Linked DNA regions of Homo sapiens: region 1 is linked to region 2. Evidence: fine-mapped expression QTL. Tissue or cell type: whole blood. Region 2 holds a variant in brackets; the other region holds the start of a gene. All regions are shown on one strand. Distances are between the middles of the regions.

Region 1 (8,078 bases), 50 kb before region 2:
CAAGGGTTCCTCTCGGCCAGAGACCGCCGCATTACCCTGGAGCAGGTTTTTAAGCCGCACAATCTCTTCGCCATTCAATCCGTGATCCTCAAGCTTCAGCGTGCATCAGACACCTGAAACTCTAGCCACAGTTGCAGGGTCCCCGTGCCTCTGGCTGGAGGCGGGTCGGCCCTGTGCGGTAGCGGAAGGGAAGAGAGGAGCCGGTGGGTGCGGAGGGCGGGGACTGGCTGGGTCCCGTGGGGGCGGGTCCCGGGAGGAGGCTGGGCTGGCGCCCACTTCGTGCTTTGCAGGACTCAAGAGACCAACACTTGGGAGTCACCACACATGGGAGAAAAGTCACCACACATGGGAGATGGATGGAGGGTTCTCCAAGGCAGTTTAAGCAACAGATGTTGGAGCTGTTATGCCCGGGGCACAGTCTTAGCCCATAGGCCCAGTCGCAGCTCTGGGAAAGGGAGAGATGGGAGGGAGAGACAGAGGACCCCGATTTGGAGGAAGGTAAGAGATCTCACAGGCTCACCTTTGCCCCTCTCCACAGCTGGCTGCTCGGTGCTGGTGAACACCTCTTGCAGGCTGGTGAACCTCACCGCCCACCTGAGGCAGAAAGCAGGGTTGCCCCCAGATGGTGAGGAGACAGGGAGGAGAAGGAGGGGCTGAGGGGTCCCAGGCAGGGGTGCCAGCCCTGCCCAGTCTCTCTCCATGTCCTCCCAGCGACCATTGCTCTCCTGGCTGAGGATGGCAACCTAGTGAGCCTGGAGGAGGACCTGAAGGAAGGGGCTTCCCGGGCCCAGACCATGGGCAACTCCCTACTGAAGGAGCGAGCCATATATGTCCTCGTTCGGATCATCAGTAAGGTGGCCCAAGGTTCTCTCCCCTGCAGCTATGGTAGAATGTAAGAGGGGGGCATAGCAGACCATAGACCACCCAAGGCCCTGTCCGGCCTCCCACCTCGGCTGGGGACCTAGCCCCAATCCATCCCTACCCAATGCTCTGCTCCCAGCCTGGACTAGCAAACAGTTCCAGAGTGAGAGGCAGAGTAGGGACCATTAGGCCAGTCAGGTGTCCTTCATCGTCTCTCCACATGTCACAGAGGGAGAGGACATGGCCTCCACCCGCTATGAGTCCCTATTGGAGAACCTGGATGACCATTACCCAGAGCTGGCAGGTGAGTGTCAGGGTACAGCCCAGGGGGAGGGCACACCTTCTCCCTAACCCCTACCAACAGGACTTCCTGGGCCTTCCAGAGGAACTGCGCAGGCTGTCAGGCCTCTCCTCTGTGGGCCACAACTGGAGGAAGCGTATGGGCACTCGGCGAGGCCGCCATGAGCAAAGCCCCACTTCAAGGCCCAGAAAGGTGAGCTCCCTGCCACCCAGGAGTTGCTAGCTGGGGCAGGGAGCCAGGTACAGAGCAGATTTGGACATCCACAGAGACACCCAGAGTGGGATCCCTTCCTGCAGGACAGACACATATGATGAGGGGCAGACCCTCAACACCAACTCCACGCACATATACCCCCAGATGGAACACACTGTACCCTGAGACAGGTCCCCACCACCCCACGGGAGTGCCAGCGCACTAAGGGCCGGAATGTCCTCAGGCTTCACAGATGTGGCATAGGGGCTGGCACACAGTAGGAGCTCAGTGCACAACTGCTGGATGAACTCAATGAAGGCGGCAGCATGGTGTGTGATGGCACGGCCCACACTGGGTTTGAAGGGCTTGTTCTTCCATTCTGGCAGGCTTGGGGACCTGGCACACTACTGCCAACTAGCCAAGTTGGACTCAGACCCAAGGGGGTTAGCCATGACCTCTGCCTTGTGTGATCAGGTGCAAACAGACAACAACCCAGCAGGACTCCTCTTGCAGAATCTGGAATTGCTGAGAAGTTGCATCAGCAAGAGGGGCAAGGTCAGACAGGATTTGAGGCCGCCAGGGGCACCTAAGCTGTGGGTGCAGAGAATGGGATGCAGAGGTAGAGACAAGAAGGGTAGAGGTGGCAGGTATCCCTGATAAGGGGGAGACCATGGGTTCATCCTGGGATTCCACCCTCAGAGTCAGATGCCCTTGGGATCACCGACTAATGCCTCTCCACCTCACTCTGGACTGCCCAAGGAATCTGTCCTGTGCTACCCACAGTGCAGATTGCAACAGGGCTCCTCCTCCCCACCCAGGGCCCTGATTAAGGGGATGGATTGCACACTGTAGTGAGACATCCATCCTGACCCCACCTCATCAGCCAGGGAGCTCCCTGAAGACAGGCCATCGAGAGAGGCACACAACAGGCTGTGGTCTAAAATAAACTTTTAATTGCACATTTGTGTCTTGGGTTATCTGTGGGGTGAGAAACCTCCTCACTTCCAATCCCAGCTATCTGGGTACAATCTGGTGTTGTGGTCTGGCTGTCGGCGAGGGGTAGAGGTGGGTGCAGGACTGGCCCCCGAGTCTGCACCGACCTCTTCAGGGCAGGGAGCTCAGACCTGGGAAGGGAGGGGCAGCACAGGCTGGTGGTCAGCCTGCAGGTGCAAGAGGAGGGTTGGCCTCTCCCCCTCCCCGCCTGAGTCGGGGTCCACTCACTCACCATGGTAGTACTTGCACTGCTTCAGGGCCTCGCTGAAGCCCTCACACAGGGACAGGTCACTCTGAGTGGTGGAACAGTCCAGGAACTGCCTGATCTCGTAGGCGCAGGGCCCCATCTGCAGGGGCTGGGGGGCAGCGGGGGTGGGGGCCTGGGGGTACAGTGCAAGAGGCTGCAGGATCAGCTTGGAGTTGGCACCTGGAGGTGCGTTTCAAACCTGGGGCCACCTGCCCCTCCCCACATCCCCAGCCTGGGTGTCCCAAGGGTCCTAGGCAGGCTGAGTGATCCAGCAGCAGAGGCGGCTACAGACAGCATGTTTCTGCTGCCTTTTTTTTTTTTTTTTTTTGAGACAGAGTCTCACTCTGTCACCTAGAGTGGAGTGCAGCGGCGCAGTCTCGGCTCACTGCAACCTCCGCCTCCCGGGTTCAAGTGGTTGTCCTGCCTTGGCCTCCCAAGTAGCTGGGGCTACAGGCGCCCGCCACCATGCCCAACAAATTTTTTGTATTTTTAGTAGAGAGGGGGTTTCACTATGTTGGCCAGGCTGGTATCGAACTCCTGAACTCATGATCCACCCGCCTTGGCCTCCCAAAGTGCTGGGATTACAGGCATGAGCCACTGCGCCTGGCCTCTGCTGCCTTCTAATGGGCACTTTGGGCGGGTGCAGGAGAGGGAGGAGAAGGCTCTAGGAAAGCCCAGTACTCTGCCTGTACTCTCAGAGTATGAGCCCCACCCCCACAAGTTCTAGCACCTTCCTGGCTCAGCTACACTAATCCTCATGACCCCTGACCTAGCCACAAAGCCACATTTGGCTTACGGCGGTGGGGTTCCTAGCAGGGGAAAGGTCATCAGGGAAGTGGCTCCCCTTCGCCCTTGCGCCCAGCGGCCACAGTGCCCAGACCTGGGTGTGGGGAGAACAGGGGCTCAGGAAATCCAACATCCCTCCCCTCTGCTAGGGTGAGGTGACCTTGGGCGAGTCTCTGAGCCCTCAGGGCCTGGGTTTCCCATCTTTAAAGGGCTGGTTGGTGTCTCTCCCTGGGAGCTTAGGGACCCTGGCCTCAAGGGAGAGGCCGGGAAGCCTGCCTCTAAGTGACAGTGAACTCAAGACCAGTGGACTAGGACCCTTCCCGGGCAGAGTCCTGGGCTGAAGCAATGGTGAATACACGCGGACACTCCTCACTGGACACTTGGGCAGCTCCCTGTGTGGCCTCGAGATAATCCTGCCTCAGTTTCTCTTGGACTCGCTGCTCACCTGCTGGACAGCAGGCTGGGAGGGCTCCGAGCTCCCCCCGCTGAAGGCTCCGGTCAGGGCGCTGCCCATGACGTGTCCCACAGCCGAGCCCACGGCTACCCCTGCGGCCGTGGTCGCCATCTGAGCCATGAGCCCCGGCTGGCCCGAAGGGGCGGGGGCTGGGGCGGCTGCCGAGGGCGGTGGGTGCGCGGGCGGGTGGGCAGAGGGCGCGGCTGGGCGGCTGCGGGGGTGGGAGGAAGCAGGGTTAATCCTGGCCAGACCCCAGGCTGGAGGGCTGCAGCTCCTGGAAACGACCCCCGGAGAGATGGACGACCCACGTCTCCACACGTGGGTGCTGCACCCCCACCCCTCCCCCCGCCAAGATGGCGCAGCAGCAGCCAAGGTCACTCTGCGGACGCCCTTAGGGGAGTGCCCACACTTCCCTAACCCCCTCCCCACAGGGCCCTTGTCCCCCTCACACCTGGCTGGCCGGGAGGCCGCGCTGCGGCTTCCCCGAGGCATGGTGGCGGCGGTGGGACCCGGGCGACCTTAGAGACGGCGGCAGCGGTGCTGTCGCGGGGACAAATGCCGCAGCGCTTGTCACAGCCGGCGCAAAAAAGGCGGGGCCCCGGGCGGGGCCTCAGGAACACGCCCCCAGCGGGAGGCGGCACTGCCCCCAACCCTATCCCCCTTCTCCCGTCCTCCGGACATCTCCCTTCCAGCAGCTCCGGGTCTCGGCTGGAAATGGGACCCTGCTCCCTCCCTGCGCCTGGCAGGCTGTGCGGGTTCTGGGGACAGGGGCCAGTGTCGCAAAGCGCCGAGGGCTTAAGGAGGGCGACAGTGCCTTCTGTTAGGACCACCGCAGAGGGCAGGGAGCGGAGTTGGGGGTTGTTGCGAGCCCTGGAGGGGAGAGGAGACGGGGAGGCGACGGGATGGGGCCAGCTGGGAAGGGGACGCGAGGCTCCAGGCTGGACTCCGCTCTCTGCCCCCTCCCGGACTCGGCTGTCTGTCCCCTCCCTCCAGACAGGGTCTGCTGACCACCGCGTGGCCTGGGAGTCTCCGGTGGCCTAGGGAAGTGAAGCGCGGCCCTGGGGAAGGCCTGGAGCAACCCATCCCCAGAACTCCCACGAGGGGGCGTCCCAACCCGTCTTCGACTGTTGGCCAAAATGCGCTGCCAATGCTGGCAGCCTTACGCAGTGCCCGCGGGGGATATGAGGCCCCCCGCGCGGCCCTGAACCCCACCGGATTCCCCGGGCCGGCCCGACCGCCCCCACCTAGTCCCTGGCCCCGCGAGTGCAACCCCCGACACTAACGGCCTTTACGCGACATCCGAGCAGCGTGTCTATCCCAAAGGCCTAGGAGCATTTGCCCGGCTCGGTCAAATCTAGCGCAAGTTTGAAGCCTGCGGCCTCGCAATTTTAGCAGCTTCGTTCCAGGCCAGGTGAGCTGGAGCGCGGATTTAGAATGCTTTCCTGCTCTTCGAGAACTTGAGGTTTTAATTTTACTTTTTACTTTTTTTTTTTTGACACGGAGCCTTGCTCTGTCGCCCAGGTTGGAGTGCAGTGGCGATCTCGGCTCACTGCAACCTCCACCTCCCGGATTCAAGCAATTCTCCTGCCTCAGCCTCCTGAGTAGCTGGGACTACAGGCTCGTGCCACCACACCTGGCTAATTTTTGTATTTTTAGTAGAGACGGGGTTTCACCATGTTGGCCAAACTGGTCTCCAACTCCTGAGCTCATGATCCTCCTACCTCAGCCTCCCAAAGTGCTGGGATTACAAGCATGAGCCATCGCGCCCGGCTGAGCTTGAGGTTTTTATGGTCTTTTCTGGGTGACTTTGCAGTGGTCATATTATTACTCCTAGGTGGGGGAAGGTAGGGACTGTCCCTCATCACTGCTGTGCCTGCAGAGGACTCCTGACACCGGGATTGTCGGCAGGGTGCAACCAAGAGCAAAAGCACCCAGAAGTGGGGGTGTGGGTCACCAAGTAAGAGAGGAGGCCCCTCCATAAGGAAGGAGCAGGTCAAGGGGCAAGGGGAGTGGTGGCTGGGGCGTTTGGCCCTGCCTGGCATGCTCAATTCTGTGTGTGCACAGCTGTCCCCAGCCATGCATGCTCTCCATGGAAGTCAGGTGCAGCCCTGTGTTCTCTCACACTGCAGTCCTTTCAGCCAGCCTGTGAACAGGGCCCTTCCCCGCCCTGTCTTCAGTTTCTCCTCTCTGAAGGGGGGTGACCACCCACCTTGAGGGTGGCCTCCCAGTGAGGTGAGCACACCAAGGGTGGGCCATTCTTTCCTGGCAGACTCACCAGGCCTGGTCCAGCCGCTACTCCCTTGTTCATGCAGTCCATGCCACCTGGTTCCTGTTTGCCACACCAAACAAACTGAACACTTCTCATGGTGGTCCCCGGGCCTAAACTGCAGAGAGTTGTTACTTCAGCTCCCATGGCTGATGGACTGCAGGTTCCACAAAGCATGGCCTTGCACCTCGGAGGCACCCAAGACCACTTAAGTGGGTTACACAAATGAAAATGAGGCTGAAAGGATGACACTGAAGCAGGCATTGAAATGCCAACTTTTTTTTTTTTTTTTTTTTGAAACGGAGTCTTGCTCTGTCGCTCAGGCTGGAGTGCAGTGGTATGATCTCCACTCACTGCAACTTCTGCCTCCTGGGTTCAAGCGATTCTCTTGCCTCAGCCTCCCGAGTATCTGGGACCACAGGCACATGCCACCATGCCCCGCTAATTGTTTGTTTTTTGTTGTTTTTTTGTTTTTGTTTTTGTTTTTTTAAACAGAGTCTCACTCTGTTGCCAGGCTGGAGTGCGGTGGTGTGATCTCAGCTTACTGCAACCTCCACCTCCCGGGTTCAAGTGATTCTCCTGCTTCAGCTTCCCAAGTAGCTGGGACTACAGGCACGTGCCACCATGCCCAGCTAATTTTTTTTTGTATTTTTAGTAGAGACAGGGTTTCACCATGTTGGCCAGGATGGTCTCTTGTGATCCGCCTGCCTCAGCCTCCCAAAGTGCTGGGATTACAGGCATGAGCCACCACGCCTGGCCTGAAATGCCTACTTTTTAAAAATGAGTCACTTTAGCGGGGAATAGTGGCTCATGTCTATATCCCAGAACTTTGTGAGTCCCAGGCAGGCAGATTGCTTGAGTCCAGGAGTTCGAGACCAGCCTGGCCAACATGGTGAAACCCTGTCTCTACAAAAAATACAAAAATTAGCAGGGCATAGTGATGCACACCGGTAGTCCCAGCTACTTGGGAGGCTGAGGCAGGAGGATCGTTTGAGCCTGGAAGGCGGAGGTTGCAGTGAGCCAAGATCACACCATTGAGCAAGACCCTGTCTCAAAATAATAAAAGTAAATAAAAGTGAGTGACTTTAAAGAAAAGATTGCCTTTCAGGCGCGGTGGCTCACGCCTGTAATCCCAGCACTTTGGGAGGCCGAGGCGGGTGGATCACCTGAGGTCAGGAGTTCAAGACCAGCCTGGCCAACACGGTGAAACCCCATCTCTACTAAAAATATAAAAAATTAGCTGGGCATGGTGGCGGGCGCCTGTAGTCCCAGCTACTCGGGAGACTGAGGCAGGAGAATGGCATGAACCTGGGAGGCGGAGCTTGCAGTGAGCCGAGATCGCGTCACTGCACTCCAGCCTGGGCGACAGAGAGAGACTCCGTCTCAAAAAAAAAAAAAAAAAAAAGAAAAGATTACGAACAGTGTAGGTTGTAAAAATTACTGCTGTCTTACTTCTCCTCGCCCTCTAGGAGTCTCTGTGGAGTCTTCTTGAATAAGCTGTGAAACATTTCCCCACCCGCTTCCCTTTCTTGGCCCAGGCTTCCTGACCACAGCCTCACCTTTGAGCAGCTCAGAGCCCTGCCTGCCAGGATGCGAGCCACTGCCTGGATCGTGGCTCTGCAGGGCCACCCATGATGGAACAGGTCGCCTGGTGAGGTGGTGAGGCCCTTCATCATTTCAGGGGGTGTACAGCAGTACTGGGTAACCCCGAAAATCAGGGATGAGACTGAAGGATCCCTTCCAGAATGTGGACACAACCCCTCCTTTGAGTCTCACCTCCTTTCCTTCTTTTTTTTGAGATGGAGTCTCGCTCTGTCACCCAGGCTGGAGTGCAATGGAACAATCTCGGCTCACTGCAACCTCCGCCTCCCGGGTTCAAGTGATTCTCCTGCTTCAGCCTCCTGAGTAGCTGGGCTTACAGGTGTGTGCCACCACACCTGGCTAATTTTTGTATTTTTAGTAGAGACAGGGTTTCACC
Region 2 (8,078 bases):
AGTAAGCTGAGAAAAGGAAATAAAAGACGTGTAGATTGGAAAGGAAGAAATAAAATCCTATTTGCAGATGACATGATTGTCCGTGTAGAAAATCCCAAGGGATCTACAGAAAACTTGGAGAACTAATAACTGAATTCCCCAGGGTCACAAGATACAAGGGATACAAGGTAAACATGCAGAAATCCATTTTATTTCTATATGCCATTAATGAGTACCTAGACACAAATTAAAAATACATTACCATTTATCATCACTCAATAAAAAAAGGAATACTTAGGTATAAATCCAACAAAACATTTACAGGACTTATATACCAAAAACTATAAAACACTGACGAAAGTAATGAAGGAAGACCTAAATAAGTAGACATATCATATTCATGGATTAAAAGACTCAAGATGATGTCAGTTTTCCCCAAATTGATATACAGATTTAATGCAATTTCTGTGAAAATCCCAGCAAGATTTTTTTTGTAGATAAGATGGTTCTAAGATTTATATGGAAAGGCAAAGAAACTAAAATAGCTAAAGCAATTTATTTATTATTATTATTATTTTTTTTTGAGATGGAGTTTTGCTCTTTTGCCCAGGCTGGAGTGCAGTGGCATGATCTCTGCTCACTGTAACCTCCACCTTCCGGTTTCAAGCGTTTCTCCTGCCTTAGTCTCCCGAGTAGGTGGGATTACAGGTGCCCGCCACCATGCCTGGCTAATTTTTGTATTTTTAGTAGAGACAGGGTATTACCATGTTGGCCAGGTTGGTCTCAAACTCCTGAGCTCAGGCAGTCCGCCTGTCTCAGCCTCCCAAAGTGCTGGGATTACAGGCATGAGCCACCACACCCGGCCAGCAATTTTGAAAAACAGTAAAGTGGGAGTAATCATTCTACCCAATCTCAAGGCTTACTATATAGCTACGATAATCAAGGCTGTGTGGTATTGGTGGAGTGACATACCGTGATGGAACAGAATTGAGAATCCAGAAACAGACCCACACAAACGTGCCCTCCTGATTTTTACAAAGATGCAAATGTGATTCAATGGAGGAAAGACAGCTCATTCAACAAAATGGCACTGGAGCAATTAGACAATCATAGGCAAGTAGGCTGGCACAGTGGCTTACGTCTGTAATCCTAGCACTTCGGGAGGCTGAGGTGGGCAGATCACCTGAGATCACGAGTTCGAGACCAGCCTGACCAAGATGGAGAAACCTCGTCTCTACTAAAAATACACAATTAGCTGGGCGTGGTGGCGCATGCCTGTAACCCCAGCTACTCGGGCGGGTGAGGCAGGAGAATCGCTTGAACCTGGAAGGCAGAGGTTGCTGTGAGCCGAGATCACGCTGTTGCAATCCATCCTGGGCAACAAGAGTGAAACTCTGTCCCAAAAAAGCAACAACAACAAAAAAGGCTGGGCACAGTGGCTCACGCCTGTAATCCCAGCACTTTGGGAGGCTGAGGTGGGCGGATCACCTGAGGTCAGGAGTTTGAGACCAGCTTGACCAACGTGGAGAAACCTCGTCTCTACTAAAAATACAAAATTAGCCGGGCATGGTGGCGCATGCCTGTAATTCCAGCTACTTGGGAGGCTGAGTCAGGAGAATTGCTTGAACCCAGGAGGCCGAGGTTGCTGTGAGCCAAGATCACGCCGTTGCGCTCCAGCCTGGGCAACAAGAGCAAAACTCCGTCTCAAAAAAAAAAAAAAAAGGCAAAAGACAGGAAGAGAAATTTCACTAAAGAAGTTATATAGGTGGCAAATAAACATTGAAAAGCTTTTCCACATTGTTAGCCTTAGGGAAATGCAGATTAAAATTACACTGTTATTCCACATCTTTAAAAAGTGGTGACAGCATCAGATGCTGGCGAGGATGTGGAGGAACTGGGTCACTCACAAGCTGCTGATGGGAATGTAAAGTGGCTGGAAAACTGCCCTAGAAAACAGTGTGGCAATTTCTGTTAAAAACTAAACATGCGGCCAGGCGTGGTGGCTCACACCTGTAATCCCAGCACTTTGGGAGGCCGAGGCGGGCGGATCACGAGGTCAGGAGATCGAGACCATCCTGGTTAACATGGTGAAACCCTGTCTCTTCTAAAAATACAAAAAATTAGCTGGGCGTGGTGGTGGCTGCTTGTAGTCCCAGCTACTCGGGAGGCTGAAGCAGGAGAATGGCGTGAACCCGGGAGGCGGAGCTTGCAGTGAGCCGATATAGCGCCACTGCACTCCATCCTGGGCGACAGAGCGAGACTCCGTCTCAAAACAAACAAAAAACTAAACATGCAACCAGTGTACCTTGAGCATTTATCCTGGAGAAATGAAGACATGTTTATACAATAGCCTACACGTGGATGTTCATAGCAGCTTTATTTATAATAGCGGGAAACTGGAAATGATCTAGATAGCCTTCAGTGAGTGAATAGTTAAAGTGAGGCCCCTTCGTACCACAGAATGTCACTTGGCAGTAAAAGGAAGTGACAATCTGGATGAATCACTGGATACAGATACAGTCCTCTATCTTGTCTTTTTTGGAGGAAACTGGGCGCAGTGTGCATGGAATTTCTCTGTGTTGTTTCTTGCATCTGTACATGAATCTACAATTACTTAAAAATTTTAAAATGCTCTGGGCAGTGTATTCACTGGGTGTTTACCCCGTGCACCTGAGGTTCCTGCTGTTGCTGCCCCGCAGGCTGTTAGGATGCTGGTCTCCAGCGTGTCTTTAGGGCAGGGAGGAGATAGTGGGGCTGTGGTCTGTTAGGCCGACCTGCTTCTTGATGATGGAATCCTACTGTCTGCTCTGAGGCAATTTTTCTTGGCTTTTTCAGCTTATTCCTGCAAGGCGTCTTGTCAGTACGGTCTGGGTGGAGCAGGGAGAGAATGTTGACTGAGAGGACCTTGCTGAGGTCTGGCTGGCCACAGATGGTCCCTGTGAGCTCCCATCTGGTACAATTCCTTTTCCAGGATCCGGGATCTGTAGGGACCTCCACGCTTGTGACCTTGTTGAGGCCCTGCTGCTGCTACTGCAGTCACAGGCCTGGAAATCGCTGTGGCTTGGCACAGTGTGTTTTGCTCACATGAGGCCTGGTATTGGGCCAGCCTCTGTGCCATCACGTCTGCCACCAGTTCAGCACAGAGGGGAGTAGAGAGATGGCACGCAAGCTTTGATGTGCCTTTGCTGGCCTCGCCTGGATCATCTCATTAGTTGGGATAATCTCATGCGCCCACCCAGCTATGAGTGGAATGAGGGAAGTGTTTATGGCCATGACCACCCCCAGGGCATGGAGCAGGAGGTCTGTGCAGGATGAGGGCTGGGGGCCTGCTAGTCATGTGCTTCCTCCTTCCACTCCCAGTTTCCAGGAAGGCCACCCCCAGTGCCCTGGTTGTCCTCTCCTGCATCCGGAGATGTTTGGCTTCAAAGAAGAAGGGGTGAGGGAGGC[C/A]GGTCCATGCCCAAGCATGGTGCAATCTCTTGGCATCCCTTCCCTCTCCTGATTTCAGAGAAGTTGATGACGCCTGAGATGTTTTCAGAAATCCTCTGTGACGATCTGGATTTGAACCCGCTGACGTTTGTGCCAGCCATCGCCTCTGCCATCAGACAGCAGATCGAGTCCTACCCCACGGACAGCATCCTGGAGGACCAGTCAGACCAGCGCGTCATCATCAAGGTAGGTGACTTCTCACCCAGCACTGGAGCCTTCCTGGCCCTCAGGGTGGGTGTCATCATGGAGCACTGAGGGTACACCAAGGCCTCAGCAGAAGCCCGTCTTTGGGTTCCATATCATCTGGAAAGTCATAACACCTGGCTTTGCTCCCTGCAATCCCCCAGGAAGGGCATAGGCTGAGTTCTCATAGTAAAGTGTTATATTCCGGACACATTCAGGGGGTGTCTCTGAGGCACTGCCAGGCTCTGAGCAAAGCCCGGAGGTCTAGAGGAGGTGAAGGCAGCTGATTGGCTGGGCCAGGCTGAGTGCTCCAGGGGGGCCTAGTAACCCAATAAGATGCTGCCTTAGTGGCCATATTACAGGTGAAGAGGTGGGCACGTGGAGAGCTGAGATCACCTGCGGAAGTTGCAAACTGGCCAGTTGAGAAATGGTGAGGCTGGCGATTGGGCGCAGGCCTGCACCCTGCAGAGCCTATAGCATAATCCTTGCTGTGCTGAGCCGCCACTGCCAGACTATGCCTTGAGGGTGAGGGGAGCTTTGAAAATAGGAAGATATGAGAAGTAGGTGAAATTGGCACATGTGATGACCCTAAAAAGGTCAGTGGTTTGGTTAGATCTGATGCTGTGCCTTTGGCTTCCATTTTAGGAAAACATTGATGTATAAAAATAAGAGCCATGTTACAAAGGGTTCCTGAAAATAGTCTTTGGGGTCGAGGAGCCTCGGGAGGGATGCCTCCTGTGACTGAGGGATGCCTCTGCCCCGTGCACCAGATGGAGCCTGGGCCGACTTCTTCCCACTGTGGTTCTCCGTGGCACTTTACTAAGATTTTGGAAAATAACGTGGGGGAATCACCAGCAACTTCCTCTGTGGTCCCCCAAGTAACAAACAACTAAATATCTTATTTAGTTAGTCAAGACAGTCTCACTGTGTCGCCCAGGCTGGAGTGCAGTGGCTCGATCTTGACTCATTGCAACCTCCACCTCCCGGGTTCAAGCAATTCTCCTGTCTCAGCCTCCTGAGTAGCTAGGATTACAGTTGCCCGCCACTAAGCCAGGCTAATTTTTGTATTTTTAGTAGAGACAGGGTTTCACCATATTTGTCAGTCTGGTCTCAAACTCCTTACCTCAGGTGATCCACCCACCTCAGCCTCCCAAAGTGCTGGGATTACAGGCATGAGCCACCGCACCTGGCCGAAATACTTTGGGTGTGTGTGTGTGTGTGTGTGTGTGTGTGTGTGTGTGTCGCAGTCTCACTCTGTCGCCCAGGCTGGCTTGCAGTGTGCGATCTCAGCTCACTGCAAGCTCCGCCTCCTGGGTTCACACCATTCTCCTACCTCAGCCTCCCAAGTAGCTGGGACTACAGGCGCTTGCCACCACGCCTGGCTAATTTTTTGTATTTTTTATAGCAGAGACTGGGTTTCACCGCGTTAGCCAGGATGGTCTCGATCTCTGGACCTCGTGATCTGCCCACCTCGACCTCCCAGAGTGCTGGGATTACAGGCATGAGCCACCACACCTGGCCAATACTTTGTTTTCTTGATTAATATTTTAAAATTGTGGTAACATTCATAACATAAAATTTACCATTTTAACCACTTAAGTGTAAATTCAGTGGCAGTATATTCACATCCATGGCTGTGTAATTATCACCACCATCCATCTCCAGAATTCTATCATCATGTAAAACTGAAACTGTCCATCAAACACTAACTCCCCATTCCCCCTCCCCCCACCCCTGGCAAGCACCATTCTGCTTTCTGTCTCTATGAATTTGACTACTCGAGGTGTCTCATTTACATTCCTAAGGGAATCATGCAGTATTTGTCCTTTTGTGACTGGCTTATTTCACTTAGCAGAATGTCTTCAAGGTTCATTTATGTTGCACCATGTCAGAATTTCCTTCCCTTTTTAAAATGTATTTATTTTTAGACAGGGTCTTACTCTGTTGCCCAGGCTGGAGTGCAGTGGCGCAGTTATGGCTCACTGCAACCTCTGCTTCCTGGGCTCAAGTGATCCACCCGGTGCAGCCTCCTGAGTAGCTGGGAAGCTAGGACTACCGGCACACTCCACCACACCCGACTGATTTTTTGTATTTTTTTTGTAGAGATGGGGTTTCGCCATGTTGCCCAGGCTGGTCTCAAACTCCTGGGCTCAAGCCATCTGCCCACCTGAGCCTCCCAAAGTGCTGGGATTACAGGCGTGAGCCACTGCGCCCAGCCTCCTTTCTTATTAAGGCTAAATAATATTCTGTTGTATGGATCTATCACATTTTTATTTATTCATCCCTAAATGGACAGACACTTGGGTTGCTTCCACATTTTGGCTATTGTGAATAATGCTGCTATGAACCTGGGTGTGCAGGTATCTGTTGGTGTCCCTGTTTTCATTTATTCATTCATTCATTCATTCATTCATTTAGATGGAGTCTCACTCTGTTGCTCAGGCTGGAGTGCAGTGGCGCGATCTTGGCTCATGGCACTCCTGCCTCCCAGGTTCAAGCAATCTCCTGCTTCAGCTTCCTGAGTAGCTGGGATTACTGGCACCCACCACCATGCCCAGCTAATTTTTTTGGATTTTTAATAGAGACCGGGTTTCACCATGTTGGCCAGCCTGGTCTCAAACTCCGCCTCAGCCTCCCAAACTCAAATGATCTGCCCACCTCGGCCTCCTAAAGTGCTGGGATTATAGGTGTGAGCCCCTGTGTCTGGCCCCTGCTTTCATTTCTTTTGGGTGTATACCTAGAAATGGAATTCCTGGATCGTACAGTAATTCCATGTTTAGTTTTTTGAGGATCCACTATACTGCCTTTCTCGGTGGCTGCACCTTTTATATTCCTACCAGCAAGGCGCAGGGGTTCCAGTTTCTCCACATCCTCACTCACACTTGTTAGTTTTTCTTTTCTTTTCTTTTTCTAGACAGAGTCTCGCTCTGTTACCCAGGCTGGAGTGCAGTGGCATGATCTTGGCTCACTGCAACTTCCACCTCCTGGATTCAAGCGATTTTCCTGCTTCAGCCTCTCGAGGAGGAGCTGGGACTACAGGCGCATGCCACCACGCCCGGCTAAATTTTGTACTTTTAGTAGAGACGGGGTCTCATCATATTGACCAGGCTGGTCTCGAACTCCCGACCACAGGTGATCCACCTGCCTTGGCCTCCCAAAGGATTATAGACGTGAGCCACTGTGCCCGGCCAGTTTGCCAGCATTTTTTTGAGGATTTTTGCATCAACATTCATAAGGGGTGTAGGTCTGTAGTTTTCCTTTCTTGTAGTATTTTTTGTCTGACTTAGGTATCAGGGCAATGAGTTAAAGAATAGTTTGAGAAGGATTGGTGTTAGCTCCTATTTAAATGTTTGGTAGATGGCCGGGTGCAGTGGCTCACGCCTGTAATCCCAGCACTTTGGGAGACCGAGGCGGGCGGATCACCTGAGGTCGGGAGTTAGAGACTACCTGACCAACATGGTGAAACCCCGTCTCTACTAAAAATACAAAAATTAGCCGGGTATGGTGGCACACACCTGTAATCCCAGCTACTCAGGAGGCTGAGGCAAGAGAATTGCTTGAGCCCGGGAGGCGGAGGTTGCAGTGAGCCGAGATGGTGCCACTGCAGTCCAGCCTGGCTGACAGCGAGACTCTGACTCAGTCAGTCAATCAGTGTTTGGTAGAATTCACCAATGAAGCCATCAGGTCTAAGGCTTTTCTTTGTCAGGAAGATTTTATTATTGATTCAGTCTCTTTACTTGTTAATACCTTTTTGAGAGGAATACAAATTTGTTTCAGTTTCACATTATGGCCAGCTAGGAGGAAAAGAAGGGACAATGGTAGGAGAGAAGTGGGGTGGGGATGGGAGTGGCAGCAAGCACCTGGCCTGTGTCCTGCATACGGTCTGCTGGCTCTGGAGGGCAGCCCTGAGGGCTCCACTCTGTGCTTCTCTTTGTCTTGTAAACATGTGGAGGATGAGGCTGTGTGGGCTAACCCACCCAGCCACGTGGTTCCAAATGACTGGGATTGGCCACACAAGGGGCCTCATGAAGCCTGACTGGTAGCTTCCCTTAACGTTTTTCTCAGAATTGAGCCCATTTTCATTGTTGTTGTCTTGACGGGGCCTGCAGAGGAGCCATACAGGAAGTTGCCCAGCAGCTGTAATCCTCCTGGGGCTGTTCCCTGCCCCACCAGAAGAGGCTTCCCCAGTGACCCTCTGACTTACCTGTGATTCCCACCTGGGGGATGGTGGCAGCTGGCAGGTTGAGAGACTGTCCCCAGCCAGGTGTCCTGCTCTGCCCTTTGGGTCAGACCAGATGTCACAGGGTGGACACAGCTGGCCCAGGGAAGCCTGTGTTATGTGGGACAGACTGCATTTTTCAGGCCAGAGGCCTCCTGGGCACCGTGACCCTGGGAACAGTGTCCTGTCTTGCCCATGAGGAATAGAAGGT

The links. PIP is the estimated chance that this variant, and not a neighbour inherited with it, causes the effect.
Region 1: it holds the start of CHCHD10, and the variant in region 2 is fine-mapped to the expression of CHCHD10 in whole blood (TOPMed, PIP above 0.99).

Annotation. Positions count from the first base shown.
Region 1 is chr22:23,763,549-23,771,626 of GRCh38, forward strand. It overlaps CHCHD10 (coiled-coil-helix-coiled-coil-helix domain containing 10), which reads right to left and starts at 4,424. Exons shown (of 4, transcript NM_213720.3): 1 at 4,286-4,424; 2 at 3,826-4,045; 3 at 2,580-2,727; 4 at 2,286-2,478. The coding sequence starts at 4,326. The coding sequence ends at 2,459. It overlaps C22orf15 (chromosome 22 open reading frame 15), which reads left to right. Exons shown (of 6, transcript NM_182520.3): 2 at 539-625; 3 at 712-849; 4 at 1,091-1,165; 5 at 1,245-1,354; 6 at 2,173-2,315. The coding sequence ends at 2,184. It overlaps LOC107985577 (a long non-coding RNA gene), which reads left to right and starts at 4,678. Exons shown (of 3, transcript XR_007068022.1): 1 at 4,678-5,245; 2 at 7,639-7,759. RefSeq lists enhancers at 1,962-2,761, 2,762-3,561.
Region 2 is chr22:23,813,286-23,821,363 of GRCh38, forward strand. It overlaps SMARCB1 (SWI/SNF related BAF chromatin remodeling complex subunit B1), which reads left to right. Exons shown (of 9, transcript NM_003073.5): 6 at 3,485-3,651. Among named protein-coding and RNA genes, the nearest start is that of DERL3, 22 kb to the right of the region's middle. RefSeq lists enhancers at 2,645-3,146, 3,147-3,648. The variant C/A (reference allele first, on the strand shown) is at 3,427.